2 linked regions of the Homo sapiens genome follow. The protein of the gene in region 2 interacts with the protein of the main gene of each other region in a pairwise test. Each region holds a gene or a part of one and is shown on either strand. Other genes may lie near its edges.

What was found. The genes of interacting proteins can lie anywhere in the genome.
Region 1: the proteins of MTMR9 (region 2) and DEPDC5 interact in binary tests that used the Homo sapiens proteins (3 or more experiments, as listed by UniProt).

Annotation. Positions count from the first base shown.
Region 1 is NC_000022.11:31,756,343-31,764,484, forward strand, and holds part of DEPDC5 (GATOR1 complex protein DEPDC5), read left to right. Parts: intron 1-2,203; coding exon 2,204-2,291; intron 2,292-4,313; coding exon 4,314-4,360; intron 4,361-8,142. UniProt on the Homo sapiens protein: As a component of the GATOR1 complex functions as an inhibitor of the amino acid-sensing branch of the mTORC1 pathway.
Region 2 is NC_000008.11:11,279,892-11,287,815, forward strand, and holds the start of MTMR9 (myotubularin-related protein 9), read left to right. Parts: upstream 1-4,924; 5' UTR 4,925-4,997; coding exon 4,998-5,179; intron 5,180-7,924. UniProt on the Homo sapiens protein: Acts as an adapter for myotubularin-related phosphatases. Increases lipid phosphatase MTMR6 catalytic activity, specifically towards phosphatidylinositol 3,5-bisphosphate and MTMR6 binding affinity for phosphorylated phosphatidylinositols.

The DNA.
Region 1 (8,142 bases), on a different chromosome or scaffold from region 2:
GTGTTAGACTCTGTGCTCAATAAATGTAGCCATTGTAATTACCAGGCTACAGGCATTGCTATATTTAAACTACAATTTCTGCTAAAATGCACAGTCTATTGTTATTACTTTGATGCTGTTGATGTTGCCTAAATATTTGTGGAGTGGAATAAAGCAAATAACTTTTGGCAGAGAAAAGAATACAAGGATACAGTATATACAACGTATACAAATACATGTTTTTATGTATAAAATACAAAGGTAGTTAGATGCTGTATCCAGTCTTCTGCAAGACTATAGGTCAAAATACAACTAACAGCTGGACATGGTAGCTCATGACTGTAATCCTGGCATTTTGGAAGGTCAAGGTGGGCAGATCACATGAGGTCAGGAGTTCAGGACCAGCCTGGCCAACATAGTGAAACCCCATCTCTACTAAAAATACAAAAATTAGCCAGGTGTGGTGGTGCGTGCCTGTAATCTCAGCTACTAGGGAGGCTGAGGCACGAGAATTGCTTGAACCCAGGAGGCAGAGGTTGCAGTGAGCCGAGATCATGCCACTACACTCCAGCCTGGGCAATAGAGCAAGACCCTGTCTTTAAAAAAATAAAAAATAATAAAAAAAAAAGAAACAACCAACAGATATTTATTAGGTGTATACCTGTGCCAGACGTAATGATTATGAATGCCACAAGGTTCTTTGTCCCTAAAGAGTTTTCAGTTTGGTAAGATAGACATGCAAAAAGGAAATGATAAAACCAAGCAGAAGGGGATATGTTCTCAGGGACCTTAATTCAGACTATGTAAATTAGGGAGGAAGCTCCAAAGAGCATTTGTCGTGAAACTGTCAGTGGAAACATAGCAAATAAAATTAGGGATTGCTGGGTGCAGTGGTGTATGCCTGTAGTCACAGCTACTCAAGAGGCTGGGACAGGAGGATCACTTGGGCCCAGGAGTTCCAGACTATAGTACATTATGCTGATTGGGTGTCTGCACTAAGTTCTGCATCAATATAGTGACCTCCCAGGAGTGGGGGACCACCAGCTTGCCTTAGGAAGTGTGAACCACCTCAGGTTGGGAACAGAGCAGGTCAAAACTCCTGTGCTGATCAGCAGTGGGATTGTCCCTGTAAATAGCCACTGTACGCCAGCCTAGGCAACAGCAAGACCTTATCTCTAAAAGAAAACAAAAAAATTTGGGAGTAAGCCAATGTTTCATTTTACTAGGCTAAATTTTTGTTGGGTCTGATTATATTTGAAATCTAGATAAACTTAATTGTCATGATATTAGCATAATTAAAGGTGATGTCTTTCCTTGCAAATTAAAACAGCAAAACAGTCATTCTGTCTTTATGCTTCTGAGTTTGCAATATTTGATAGAGTTCTCCCCATCCCTAGTAGAGGGGCAGGGGTAGATAAACATGAAACCACATCCCTCTTATTTTATTTATTTATTTTTTTGAGATGCAGTCTCTTTCTGTCACTCAGGCTGGAGTGCAGTGGTGTGATTTCGGCTCACTGTAACCTCTGCCTCCCGGGTTCAAGTGATTCTCCTGCCTCAGGCTCCCAAGTAGCTGGGATTACAGGCTCCCACCACCACACCTGGCTAATTTTTGTATTTTTAGTAGAGACGGGGTTTCGCCATGTTCGCCAGGCTGGTCTTGAACTCCTGACCTCAGGTGATCTGTCCATCTCGGCCTCTCAAAGTATTGGGATTACAGGCATGAGCCACTGCTCCTGGACTCTCTGAGGTTATTTTCTTACTCCTGTTAGATCTAAAGATTTATTGTGACGGTCACATTAAGACACTGTTTGGGAAATTCTTTGAACATTGAATAACTGTAACGAATTGTGCTGTATCTGTGGGAACCAGCCTGTTTTGTTCCTGTTATATGCCAGATACACAATATTTGAGGGGGTAAAAGGCTGTCCAGAAGCCTAATTCCCAGATACTAAGGGCTGCTCTGCCCCTGGAAGCAGTGCGGTAGTAGAAAGGGCACAGGGTATGGAGACAAAGGTACCTGAGCGCCATCCCACTCTGCTGCTGTGTAGCTTGGTGTTCCTGTGTGAATCCATTAGTCATTGTAAGCCTCGTTTCAAAATAGAACCTCATCTGTCAATGGGGTGGCAATACCATCCTGATGGGGTTGTGAGGAACCAGTATGAGAACATACAGTGTACCTAATGAGTGTTTTTCTACTTGAAGTGGCTGAATTGTCTTTCAGATGATGAGCTAGTTGTGAACCCCAAAGTGTTCCCTCACATCAAGCTTGGAGACATTGTAGAGATTGCACACCCCAACGATGAATACAGGTGAGTGTCTCATAGGATCCATGGAACTGGGCAATTCACTGTTTCCAAATGATGTCCAAGGCAGATAGCTCTCTTTGCCTTTCAAAATGCTCATGCTGTGATGGCTCAATCCTGTAATTCCAGCACTTTGGGAGGCTGAGGTGGGTAGGTCATTTGAGCCCGGGAGTTCGAGACCAGCCTGGGCAACATAGAGGGACCCTGTCTTAAAAAAAAATGATCATGCCTTCTAGGATTTGATCAACAAATAATTTTTCAAAAGTGGTCCATTCCTTCGTTTTTTTTTTTTTGAGATGGAGTCTAGCTCTGTCACCCAGGCTAGAGTGCAGTTGTGTAATCTCAGCTCACTGCAACCTCTGCCTCCCAGCCCCAAGTGATTGTCCTGCCTCAGCCTCCTGAGTAGCTGAGATTACAGGCTCAGCCTCCCGAGTAGCTGAGATTACAGGCATGCGCCATCACGCCCAGCTAATTTTGCATTTTTGGTAGAGACAGGGTTTCACCATGTTGCCCAGGCTGGTCTTGAACTCCTGACCTCAGGTAATCCACTGGCCTTGGCCTCCCAATGTGCTGGGATTACAGGTATGAGGCACCGCACCTGGCCTAATTTTTGTGTTTTTTAGTAGAGATGGGGTTTCACCATATTGTCCAGGCTTGTCTCAAGTCATCCATCCTGCTAGGCCTCCCAAAGTGCTGAGATTACAGGCATGAGCCACCATACCGAGCCGTTTTTTTTGTTTTTTTTGTTTTTTTTTGTTTTTTTTGAGATGAAATCTCACTCTGTCACCCAGGCTGAAGTGCAGTGGTGGGATCTTGGCTCACTGCAATCTCTGTCTTCCGGGTTCAAGCCATTCTCCTGCCTCAGCCTCCTGAGTAGCTGGGATTACAGGCGCGTGCCACCATGCTTGGCTAATTTTTGTATTTTTAGTAGAGACGGGGTTTCACCATGTTGGTCAGGCTGGTTTCGAACTCCTGACCTCGTGATCCGCCTGCCTTGGCCTCTTAAAGTGCTAGGATTACAGGCATGAGCTACCTTGCCGCGCCCAGCCTTTTTTTTTTTTTTTTTTTTTTAAGAGACAGAGTCTCGCTCTGTCACCCAGGCTGGAGTGCAGTGGTGCCACCTCGGCTCACTGCAACCTCTGCCTCCTGGGTTCAAGTGACTCTTCTGCCTCAGCCTGTCGAGTAGCTGGAACTACAGGTGTGGGCCACCACACCTGGCTAATTTTTGTATTTTTAATAGAGACAGGGTTTCGTCATGTTGGCCAGGCTGGTCTCGAACTCCTGACCTCAGGTGATCCACCTGCCTTGGCCTCCCAAAGTGTTGGGATTATAGGCATGAGCCACCGAGCCCAGCCTCTTTCTGGTTTTAAAGCTGAGATGACAACTGAAAGGTTCTGTAGCATTTGTCCATTTCCTTTAGTGCGTATGGAGTTTCTTTGTTTCTTTTTTTTTTTTTGTGAGACGGAGTCTTGCTCTGTCGCCCAGGCTGGAGTGCAGTGGCACAATCTTGGCTCACTGCAAGCTCCACCTCCCGGGTTCACGCCATTCTCCTGCCTCAGCCTCCCAAGTAGCTGGGACTACAGGCGCCCACCACTATGCCCGGCTAATTTTTTTGTATTTTTAGGAGAGACGGGGTTTCACTGTGTTAGCCAGGATGGTCTCGATCTCCTGACCTCATGATCCGCCCGTCTCGGCCTCCCAAAGTGCTGGGATTACAGGCATGAGCCACCACACCCGGCCTAATTTTTTCTATTTTTTAGTAGAGAAGGGGTTTCACCGTGTTAGCCAGGATGGTCTCGATCTCCTGACCTCGTGGTCCACCTGCCTCGGCCTCCCAAAGTGCTGGGATTACAGGCGTGAGCCACCGCACCTGGCCGAGTTTCTTTGTTTCTGAGGGAGCTTTCTCCCGTTGTTGTGCTGTAAGTCACAGAATGGCCAGAGTGACCTATTTGCCTTTTGTCGGGGATGAAGGTTGCTAGGGAGTTACTGTTCACGGTATCCCAACTCTCTTGTTGCTTTCTTTTTCAGCCCTCTGCTTTTGCAGGTCAAGTCTCTTAAGGAAGATTTACAGAAGGGTAAGAATTATATCACTCTTCTTAGAATTTTTTATTTACTGCCTCAGAAACTGTAAGAAATCTCTCTTCATAATTTCAAGGGATGAGGGCAAGTAATTCTCTTCTTTTTTAAACAAATTTTAATTTAACTTTCAATTCAGGCAGTACATGGGAATGTTTGTTACATGGGTATATTGTGTACTGGTGGGGATTGGGCTTCTATTGTATCCATTACACAGTGAACCTTGTATCTGACAGAACAGATACAGATAAAGAATGTTGTATCTGTGTCTTAACATTGTTTTTTTTTTTTTTTCTGAGACAGTGTCTTGTTCTGTCACCCAGGTTGGAGTGCAGTGGCGCGATCTCGGCTCACTGCAAGCTCCGCCTCCTGGGTTCACACCATTCTCCTCCCTCAGCCTCCCAAGTAGCTGGGACTACAGGCACCTGCCACCACGCCTGGCTAATTTTTTGTATTTTTAGTAGACACGAGGTTTCACCGTGTTAGCCAGGATGGTCTCAATCTCCTGACTTCATGATCCTCCTGCCTTGGCCCCCCAAAGTGCTGGGATTACAGGCGTGAGCCACCACACCCAGCCTGAACATTGTATTTTTCAACCTTCATTCTCTTCCCTGTCCTTGTTTTTGGAGTCCCAAGTGTCTATTATTTCCATCCCACTTATAGGTAAGAACATGCAGTATTTGGTTTTCTGTTTGTGAGTTAGTTCACTTAGGATAATGGTGGCCTCCAACTCCATCCATGTTGCTGCAGTGGACATGATTCCATTTTTTTATGACTGTAGTTCTCTTCTTATCAAACTATGTTGCCACTAAAAAAAAAATTGTAAAGTGACGCTTATAGTCCTAGCTACTCTGGAGGCTGAGGTGGAAGGATCATTGGGTCCCAAGAGTTTGAGGTTTCAATGAGCTATAACGGTGCCACCGCAGTCTAGCCTGGTCAACAGAGCAAGACCCTATCTCAAAAAAAAAAAAAAAAAAAAATAGGCCAGGCACGGTGGCTTATGCCTGTAATCCTGGGAGTTTGGGCGGCTGAGGCAGGCGGATTGCCTGAGCTCAGGAGTTTGCGACCAGCCTGGGCAAAACGGTGAAACCCTGTCTCTACTAAAATACAAAATATTAGCCGGGTGTGGTGGCATGCACCTATAATCCTAGCTACCCTGGAGGCCGAGGTAGGAGAATTACTTGAACCCGGGAGGCGGAGGTTGCAGTGAGCCGAGGTCACGCCACTGCACTCCAGCCTGGGCGACAGAGCGAGACTCCGGCTCAAAAAAAAAAAAAAAAAAAAAATACACAACCTGCCTGTTGCCCAGGTTGGTCTTGAACTCCTGGCCTCAAGTGGAGTTCCTGACACCTTGACCTCCCAAAGTGCTAAGATTGCAGGTGTGATCCACCACATCTGTCCCATTTTTTCACAAACTATTTGTTAAATGCCTACTCTGGGTGAGTAGGGATTGGGGAGGAAGAAATATATATTGATGATCGCCCACCACATTGTGCAAGGTACTATCCTGGGAGCTTTGTGTAATCTAGCATTATCTTCCCAACAACTCTTGAGTGAGTGAGGAAGTTTATTATCTGCCGGACTATACAGTCTAGGCGTAGCCAGAAGCAGTGATTCCTGCTTACTTATTCTGGATTCAAATCCTTTCTTTTTCCCTCTAATGGCTATGCCATGCTGTTCAAGGAACCAAAATGTTAATTGAAAGTAAATAAGATACTCTTTTAAATAGTTCTTAAGAGAAAAAAACAAAATTCTGGGTTGCTCTAAAGGGCTTTGATGGCTGGGTGCAGTGGCTGACGCCTGTAATCCCAACACTTTGGGAGGCTGAAGTAGGTGGATCACCTGAGGTCAGGAGTTTGAGACCAGCCTGACCAACATGGTAAAACCCCGTCTCTACTAAAAATATAAAATTAGCCAGGCATTGTGGCGCATGCCTGTAATCTCAGCTACTCGGGAAGCTGAGGCAGGAGAATTGCTTGAATCTGGGAGGCAGAAGTTGTGGTGAGCTGAGATCACGCCATTGCACTCCAGCCTGGGCAACAAGAACAAAACTCTGTCTCTAAATAAATAAATAAATAAAATAAAGGGCTTTGATGTCACCCACTCTTTCTTTTTTTTTAAAGAGATGGCGTCTCACTCTGTTGCCCAGGCTGGAGTCTGGAGTGCAGTCTCACAATCTTGGCTGACTGCAACCTGCGCCTCCTGGGTTCAAGTGATTCTCCTGCCTCAGCCTCCCAGGTAGTTAGGACTACAGGCGTGCACCACCATGCCTGGCTAATTTTTATATTTATATTTTTATTTTTTTGAGATGGAGTCTCACTCTGTCACCCAGGCTGGAACGCAATGACATGGTCTCAGCTCACTGCAACCTCCGCCTCCTGGATTCAAGGGATTCTCCTGCCTCAGCCTCCTCAGTAGCTGGGATTACAGGTGCACGCCACCACACCTGGCTAATTTTTGTATTTTTAGTGGAGACAGGGTTTCACTATGTTGTCCAGGCTAGTCTCGAACTGCTGACCTCGTGATCCGCCCTCCTCGGCCTCCCAAAGTGCTGGGATTACAGACATGAGCCACCATGCCCGGCCTAATTTTTATATATTTAGTAGAGATGGGGTTTCACCATGTTGGCCAGGCTGGTCTCAAATTCCTCACCCCAGGTGATCTGCCTGCCTCAACCTCCCAAAGTCCTGGGATTACAGGCGTGAGCCACTGCACCATTGCCCCTGCCTTTTTTTTTTTTCTTTTTCCCTTTCAGACAGGGCCTCTCTCTGTTGTCCAGACTGGAGTGCAGTGGTGCAGTCACGGCTCACTGCAGCCTCAACCTCCCTGGGTGCAAATGATTCTCCATCTCCCACCTCCGCCTCCCGAGTAGCTAAGACCCCAGACGCCCAGCCCACAGGATCATGCCTGGCTAATTTTTTTTTTTTTAATTTTTGCTCAGGCTGGTCTTGAACTCCTGGGCCCAAGCAGTCCTCATGCCTTGGCCTCCTAAAGTGCTAGGATTACAGGCATGAGTCACCATGCCTGGCTATCCACTCATATTTAACAATTCAATATTTCAATTTGAGGAGAAAACATTCTATAAAACCTGGCTACTCTGGTTACGCTGCCTATGGGTTATCCCTGCTCTGCAAGGAGCAGTAAAAAAAAAATTTAAAGTTTTCATTTTTATTGTTATGTTGTGTGGTGTTATGTTTTTTATGTTATGTTATGTTATGTTTGTTATGTTATGTTATGTTATTTTGAGATGGAGTATCCCTCTGTCGCCCAGGCTGGAGTGCAGTGGTGTGATTTTGGCTCACTGCAACTTCCACCTCCTAGGTTCAAGCAATTCTCCTGCCTCTGCCTCCTGAGTAGCTGGGACTACAGGTGCGCACCACGACACCTGGCTAAATTTTTTTTGTATTTTTAGTAGAGGCGGGGTTTCACCATGTTGGTCAGGCTGGTCTTGAACTCCTGACCTCATGATCTGCTGAGCCACCACATGCAGCCAATTTAAAGATTTTAAAAGAATTCTATAAAACCTTAATCCTAAGAATGGCCTTCATACCTTCCCCTTATCTCCTGCCCCATGTTACGTTTCTTACCAGACTTAAGGGCTCATTGAAAAATTTGTTTCTTCTTTACCACTGATAACTTCATTCCAAAGAGAAGATCTCCTTTCTCTTCTGGAGTTTTACAGGTCTTTGAACTTTCTTATCTTCCTTCTTATTTAATTTATTTATTTATTGAGACAGAGTCTCATTCTGTCACCCAGGTTGGAGTGCAGTGGTACGATCTC
Region 2 (7,924 bases):
CAAAAAAGTTCATGGTGTTATAGAAAAGTAAACATTTTTCACTTAATGAAACCATGAGCTTTTCATGTGCCTCCCCCCACATAAAGAAACTAAAAGAAAAAGGTAATGGAATTACTGAAAAATGCATCCCCACCTCTAGGAGATATCACTAAATTGGACATCTCTGTCGGCCACATTCCATTCAGAGTGTGACCCTCATCCTTCAAGGTCCTGTTTTCAAATGATACCTTCTCCATAAAACGTTCCCTGATTCTTCACTCTGTAATTAAATTCTTCATTCCACAATTGGTAATTGTTATAACTTATCCACATAAATGAAGAAAGTCAAAAACTCCAGTTTAAAAAAATAACTTTGTAAATCATCCCCCCTCATCTTCCCTACTCTGTTGGTTCTTGTTTTTAGACTGGACTCTCAGGTGCAACAATATTATTGTTACTGGTGGAGAGTACTGACTACAAATCACCCAGGTTCTTGGCATTTTGAACAAAGAATTGGACAAAATTCACAAACAAAGCAACAAAAAAGTGAAGCGACAAAAGCATAGATTTACTGAAACAAAAGTACACTCCACAGAGCGGGAGCGGGCTCAAGCAAGTGGCTCAAGAGCGCTGGTTACAGAATTTTCTGGGGCTTAATTTTTTTATTTTTTTGAGGCGGAGTCTTGTTCTGTCACCCAGGCTGGAGTGCGGTGGCACATTCTTGGCTCACTGCAACCTACACCTCCCAGGTTCAAGCAATTCTCCTGCTTCAGCCTCCCCAATAGCTGGGATTACAGGCCCACACCACACCTGGCTAATTTTTGTAATTTTAGTAGAGATAGGGTTTCACCATGTCGGTTGGCCAGGCTAGTCTGGAACTCCTAACCTTGTGATCCACCCTCCTCAGCCTCCCAAAGTGGTGGGATTACAGGTGTGAGCCATCGTGCAGCATGGGGTTTAAATAGCCTCTAGAGGTTTCCCATTGGTTACTTGGTTACACCCTATGTAAATGAAGGAGTGGCCCGTCACAAGTCTGACTGATCATGGGAGGTGACCAATCAGAGTCTGAAGTGACGGTAGTTACAAAGTTACACATGAAGACTTGGCCTGCAACCAGTCTGAATGGTTGTGGGAGGGGACCAATCAGAGGTACTTTCCATTTTTCATTTGCAGTGCAGTGCAAAGGGAGTAGCCTCTGATCCTTTCGTTACATTCGTGTGAAGAGGTGGGGTTTCCCCTCTGATTCAGTTCTAGGAAGTCAGTGAGAATTGGCCTTAGGTTCCCTGCCTCTAGACCCTATTCTCCTGTCTCATTTTCCCGCTGTGAGACATGATCCCCATAAATCTTTATGGGAGGCAGAGGGACCAATGGTCTTTCTTCTGTAACTGCTTCATGCTGACTTGGGGTGCGGTGCCTACCTATTTGGGATCACAGAACTCTCACTCTGCTCTGTCTAGTGGATACAGGGTAGCTTCTTGATGGCCAGTAGTGGTGTCTTCACCTGAACTGGCTGGAAACCTTGTTGCATGATCATCTGAAGCTTGATGGTCTCTAGGCGAGAGGAAATTAATTTGGTTAATGTATTTAATAAATATGGTCCAAAAACCAAGGCAAGTATAATTAACAACGAGCCAGTCAGAGGAAGGACTCATGAACCCCTAATTAGCATTTTTGAACAGGAGGACCACGACTTGGACAGCTGTTGTCGTATCTTAGAAGCCTGGTCAGCTAATTTCTGGGTGGCATCCCTTACTAATTCTAATTGGTTGACATAAAAACAGCATTCTTCCTCTAGAAAAAGACATAAGCCACCTTTTCCAGCAGTTAGGAGATCCAGTCCCCTTCTATTTTGTAAAGCAACTGCTGCCAAGGAGTCTGTTTGAGTTTGTGTTGTGACGATACTTTGGGCAATGTCATCCAAGCTTTCCACAAAATCCTTGGAAAGTGCTGGTAACAGTATAGGGAAGTTGCAAGCCCGGTAACTCCCGTTCCTGCTCTCACTGTTATTCCTAGCCCAACAAAAAGGCGTTTGAGTTGGATTGCTCATTTGTGTCTGGCGGTTGCAGTTAAAGGTATAATGAGGGATTGGTTGTTGAGAGCTCTCCCTCTCTCTCTCTAAATATATATATATATATACACATATATATATAGTTTGTTTGTTTTGAGACAGTCTCCCTCTGTCACCCAGGCTGGAGCACAGTGGCTCAGTCTTGGCTCACTGCAACCTCTGTCTCCAGGGTTCAAGTGATTCTCCTGTCTCAGTCTCCAGAGTAGCTGGGATTACAGGTGTGCGCCACCATACCCGGCTAATTTTTTGTATTTTTAGTAGAAACAGGGTTTCAGCATGTTGGCCAGGCTGGTCTCGAACTCCTGACCTCAGGTGATCCGCCTGCCTCGGCCTCCCAAAGTGCTGGGATTATAGGCGTGAGAAACTGCGCCCGGCCGGGAGCTATATTGATTTCGGAGGCTAAAAACCAAGTGTACAGGTTCCAGTCCAATTGGCTGGTAAACACAGTAGGAACTGGTGCTGCACAGGGAAAAGGTTCCTTGTTTTTCAAGACAAAAATTGTTTTCCATGGTGAACATGTGGGTTAGCTTGTTGTTTTCACTTTCCCAAGTGGTTAAGTTTCCTACTAAAGTGGCCAAGCGAAAATGTCAACCCAGCTAGTGGGCCCACCTTCACAGTACTTAGACTGTGCATCCTTTAAAGTGCCCTTAACTAGGGATGGTTTCCATGAAAAGCATACAGGTTTTCTAAACGATGCAGTTTGGTTAATTGCATAGCTTACATGATTGTGTGAGGGTTAATTTCTGGGGTGTGGTTGCATTGAAGACTTCAAGTTCCCACGACCTGAACAGAATTTTGGCTTCTTTCAATACAAAGTGGCATCTGGAATTTTAGCTCTGTGTATGTTGATGTTGGGCCCCTAATGGGTTTCTGTGGGAATGCACCCTCAAAAAGGTTGCTCTGATTGGACTGGAGAGGGTTTACTGCTCATCCTGTCATTTTAACCTTTGTCATTTCCATACTTTTGAAGTCTTATAAGTCATCCAGATTCATTAATTCAAAGGGAGTTCCTCCCTGGTAGTTGGAATGATAGGTCATTTTTTTCAAGGACCCAAGATCGGGCTGGGATAGGGATGGCAGTGTATCTGGATGAAGATAGGAGATAAACAAAGCCAACAGTCCTTTGCCAGAGCTGAGCTGGTGGTATTTAACAGTCTTTGCATTAAATTTAAAGTTCTTAATAAATACCCAGAATCTATTAATTGCCAGAGGGGTAAAGTGAAGCTCTGTTGTAAAATAAAGCTGATTCCCTGTATGCGGTGTCCCTGTGTATACTGGGTGTATACTGGGTGTCCATTATGGAACAAAAAAAAAATACTTATTTGCTATTTTGTTCTATAGAATGGGAACTTCAGGGGGTGGATACCTGTGCTGTCAGGAATGCTAGTTATAAAAATGAATTAAAACACTTCATATATTACAAAGGAAGTGATTCCATCTATTTGGACGAAAGCAATTAAACTGCAAAAATATAAAAAATGGCAACTATTATTCAGTCTACAGTAACTATGCAACAAAGACACCAAGGAAAGTTGGTAGGCATTTACGTATCTCACTTAAAACAAGTCTATAAAGTGGTTTATTTTAAGAAGGGTACATTTTAAGAAGGACAAAATCAAAAGCATGGACAAGTGTTGGATGAGCTGATGAGGTTGTGGCAATTTACTTTGTGAATACTGTGAGAGTTTGTCCAACTCGCTGTGCTTAGGTACTAGATGGTGAGGATTTAAAAGGTCAATGAAGTCACAGCAGACCAGCACTCAAACATATTTCTCTTCTATTTCCTACTTTTGAATAAAAATGTCAGAAGTGGGCGGTGGGAAAGGAACAAGCAAAGGAGTAATTATTTGAATAAATTTTTGGCGAAACGTGGGTGTCTGACGGGGAGGCTGTGCGGTGGTGACCAACGCACCCATGCGCTGGGTTTCACAGATGCAGACTGAAGTCCAGGCTCTGCTGCAGATTAACGGGGTGGCCGCCAGCAAGTCAAGTGACTTGCTCTTCTGTGCACTGCATGTACTTGGGTTCCTCTCACAGGTATTCCTGTTTTTCCTCTTTCTTGCTCCAGGTTACACCTCGTGGCGCGGCGCTCTCGGAGAGCCTGTGGAGTGGCCCTGTGTCCCTCCCTGACCCCTGGAGGATTCCGTAAGGTCACAGTCACCGCCTCCATCCCCTACTTGCCATGTCTTCAGGGCTAATGCATAACAATTATCACAATTTACAGCAGCCCCACGCTCTGAAGAGCTTCTGGAGGGGATACTACTCAAGCGGAGGAAGGCAAGACAGGGACCTCCTCCCTCTTCCCGGACCTCTTCTGATAAGGAATATTTGTAGGTGGTTAAGAAAGGCAGCGGGAGGGCGTGAAGGCAAAGACAAGCTTTTTTTCTCGTAGGAACACACATCTTCTGGTCTGGCTGTGTTTCCGGAGGCATTTCCAGAGGACCTAGCGAGGACCAACTTCCGGCTGCGACTTCCGCGTCTTCCGAGTTTCGAGACCTGCTGCTTCCGCCCGGAGTTGTTGTGGGCTCCAGCAGCGAGTAGCCACTTCCGCTAGGAGTCCCTAGCGGCCAGGGCGTGGAAGCGGATTCTGAGGCGGCTTTCTCCTACTGCCCTCCGCTTGCCAACGCGGGACCCGGAGCCCAACGGCAGCGGCGGTCCTTGGGCCTGTGGAGAGGGGTTCTCTGTGGCCGAGTCCTAGGCCTGGTGAACCGCGCGGTGCGGGAGAGGCGCTTGGGCCTCGTCCAGCCCCAGCCCCTGTCTCCCCGCGGCCGGTGCCGGCGGCTGTAGGCCTCGCCGCGCCCACCCAGCCTGGGGCGGGCCCAGCCTCACCGCCCGGCCCGCCCCGCCCCACGGGCCAGCCCCGCGCCGGGTGTTTCCGCTACTTCCCTGCGGCGGGGTAACCGCCTCGCACCTACCGGGCTCGGTTCCCTGGCTCCGGCCGCGGGGGAGCATGGAGTTTGCGGAGCTGATTAAGACCCCGCGGGTGGACAATGTGGTGCTGCACCGGCCTTTCTACCCGGCTGTCGAGGGCACCCTGTGCCTGACGGGCCACCACTTGATCCTGTCCTCCCGGCAGGACAATACGGAGGAGCTGTGGCTCCTCCATTCAAACATCGACGCCATCGACAAGCGGTGAGTGCCCGCCCCACCCCAGCTCCGCAGGGAGCCGGGGGTCCCTTGTGGGCGCCCCGGGAAATACTTCCTGGCGTTTTCCGCGCAGCCTGCCGCCCAGCTAGCCGGCAAGATGAGCCCTCTGTGGCCTAGAATCAGGATTTACCAAGCTGAAACCCGTCCAGATGGAGGACCCGGTTTCCATTAAACCTGGATGGAGTTCTCAGGGTTATCGTGTGGCTGGTACCATCCTGATGATCATTTCTGGTTCGTAACACCATTTGGGTGGATTTTCGGCATTGTCTTTATAAATTTCTTCTTCTTCTTGCCCCATCGTATTCCTTGAATTGGTATTGTCAGTCACCGTTCATGAAGTGATTGGATGTGATTTAGGTAAAGTCTTTACCATTTCTGAGGAAAACTAAACAGATTATAAAGTTATGAGTGTCTACATGCTACAGAACCATTTTTTTAATTTCTGAAAAATGTTCAGTGTATCATATTATTTCTTACCTTCTGGGTCATCAAAATTTAATTCTCACTAAGGGAGATTCTGATGTCTTCTCTTCATCTTTACTCAATTCTGCTTGCTGAAAGAACAGGGTTGGCTCTCAAGGAAAGGCATGGACCAGTTAACCTCTTTTTTCTTTTTGTACTCCAGACTTTATCTTTCCAAGGCAGTGCCTCGAAGTCAAAAAGTTAAACTTTCATCTGCATTCAAAATTCCCATCTCCTTAGTGGCTACTCGCTAGCCAGGAGAGGGCAAACTGATTATCCGTTTTACACAGAAGTATAAATGAATGACGACAACATTTTCTATTGCCTCACAGGATAATTTGGATATTAGGAAGATTCGTACAGAGGATATGCCTTAAAATAATAATCTCTTTCTTTCTTTCTTTTTTTTTTTTTTTTTTTTTTGGAGACGAAATCTCACTGTATTGCCCAGGCTGGAGTGCGGTGGCCAATCTCGGCTCACTGTAACCTCCACCTCCCAGGTTCTAGCGATTCTTCTGTCTCAGCCTCCCGAGTAGCTGGGATTACAGGCACGCGCCACCACACCCGGCTAATTTTTGTATTTTTTAGTAGAGATGGGGTTTCACCATATTGACCAGGCTGGTCTTGAACTCCTGACCTCGCAATCCTCCCGCCTAGGCCTCCCACAGTTCTGGGATTACAGGCGTGAGCCACTGCGCCTGGCCTAAAATAAAAATTTCTAATGGTAGAATTGCAGGCAGTTTGGGTGAAGCCATGGTAGATTGATTGATTGATATGAGCAGGGGGCTCTTATTAGTCTCCTCAAGCCACCTTTTGCTGTATAAAGTCTTCAGTGGGCCCGGCACGGTGGCTCACGCCTGTAATCCCAGCACTTTGGGAGGCCAAGGTGAGCGGATCACCTGAGGTTAGGAGTTTGAGACCAGCCTGACCAACATGATGAAAGCCCGTCTCTACTAAAAATACAAAAAATTAACCGGGCATAGTGGCAGGTGCCTGTAATCCCAGTTACTCAGGAGGCTGAGGCGGAAAAATCGCTTGAACCTTGGAAGCAGAGGTTGCAGTGAGCCGAGATCGGGCCACTGCACTCCTTCCTTTGCAACAAGAGCAAAACTCCATCTCAAAAAAAAAAAAAAAAAAAAAAAAAGTCTTCAGTGGTCTCTCATTGAAAATCTAAACCCCTCAGTCATTCATGGCATTCTGTGTCTCGGCCCTATCCTACTTTCTCACTTTATTTCTTGCCATTTCTTTTAACGAGCCTTTCTTGCACTTGCTTTCATGAACGCTTTTTACCAGCCAGTCCTCACTATTTACTGGTGCTGGTATATGTCCTGTATTCTGTCATCTGTGTATTTTATTGACTTCTTCCTTCTGCTGGAATGCCTTGCCTCTCCCAAGTTTGTTTAACATTTGCCAAATGCCTTTATGTTCTGGACGTTTTGTTAGGCATTTAAGACACCAAGGTAAATAAAATATGTTACAGTTCTTGTCTTTCAGGAGTTCACAGGCAATGAGCCTGTTACCTGTCTATGAGTATTCAGTTTAACCATTTCGACCGCTACCTCCTTCACAAATTCTTCTGTTAATTCCACAACTGGAATTCATTTTTATCTCCTTCGAAACGTCTAACTGTGGCTTGGGCATATAGACGCGTAGGAAACAAAAGAAGGATTGACCGCTGAATGGTCAGATGCCGTTGAATACAACTGAGTAGTTTCTCCATGACCATCAACTACCTTTCCTTTCTTATTTACCTTTTATGGTGGTTACTTTGCGCTCATTTGTTTCCTCCTTTTTACCTTGCATTTACAAGGTGCTGGGCTTTGTAGTACATGAAGAAGAAGCAGATGAGCCATGGACCTTTGAATCTGTTAGGAGAGAATGACGAACTGTACACACATTTATCCTTTTCCTGGGAAGCAGCGTGGTGTAGTGAAAGAGCATAGGGGAGGCATCAGATCAGAGTTTGTTAAATTGCTGCTTTCAAGAAATCTTTACATCCACCTGTTTTCCACGTGCATTGTCTGAGCTGTGCGGCTGCAGTGGTGACTAAGACAAGATGCTTAGGTACTGGCCAGGGAGATGGACAATCAAGCAAGTCCAGAAATAAATATATATATTTATTAGATATATTTATATTTATTATGTTTATTATATATTATATATATTATAATATATATTATATATTATATATTATTTTCTTATATATTTATTATTTATTTATTATATATTTATTATATATTATATATAATACATATTATATAATACATA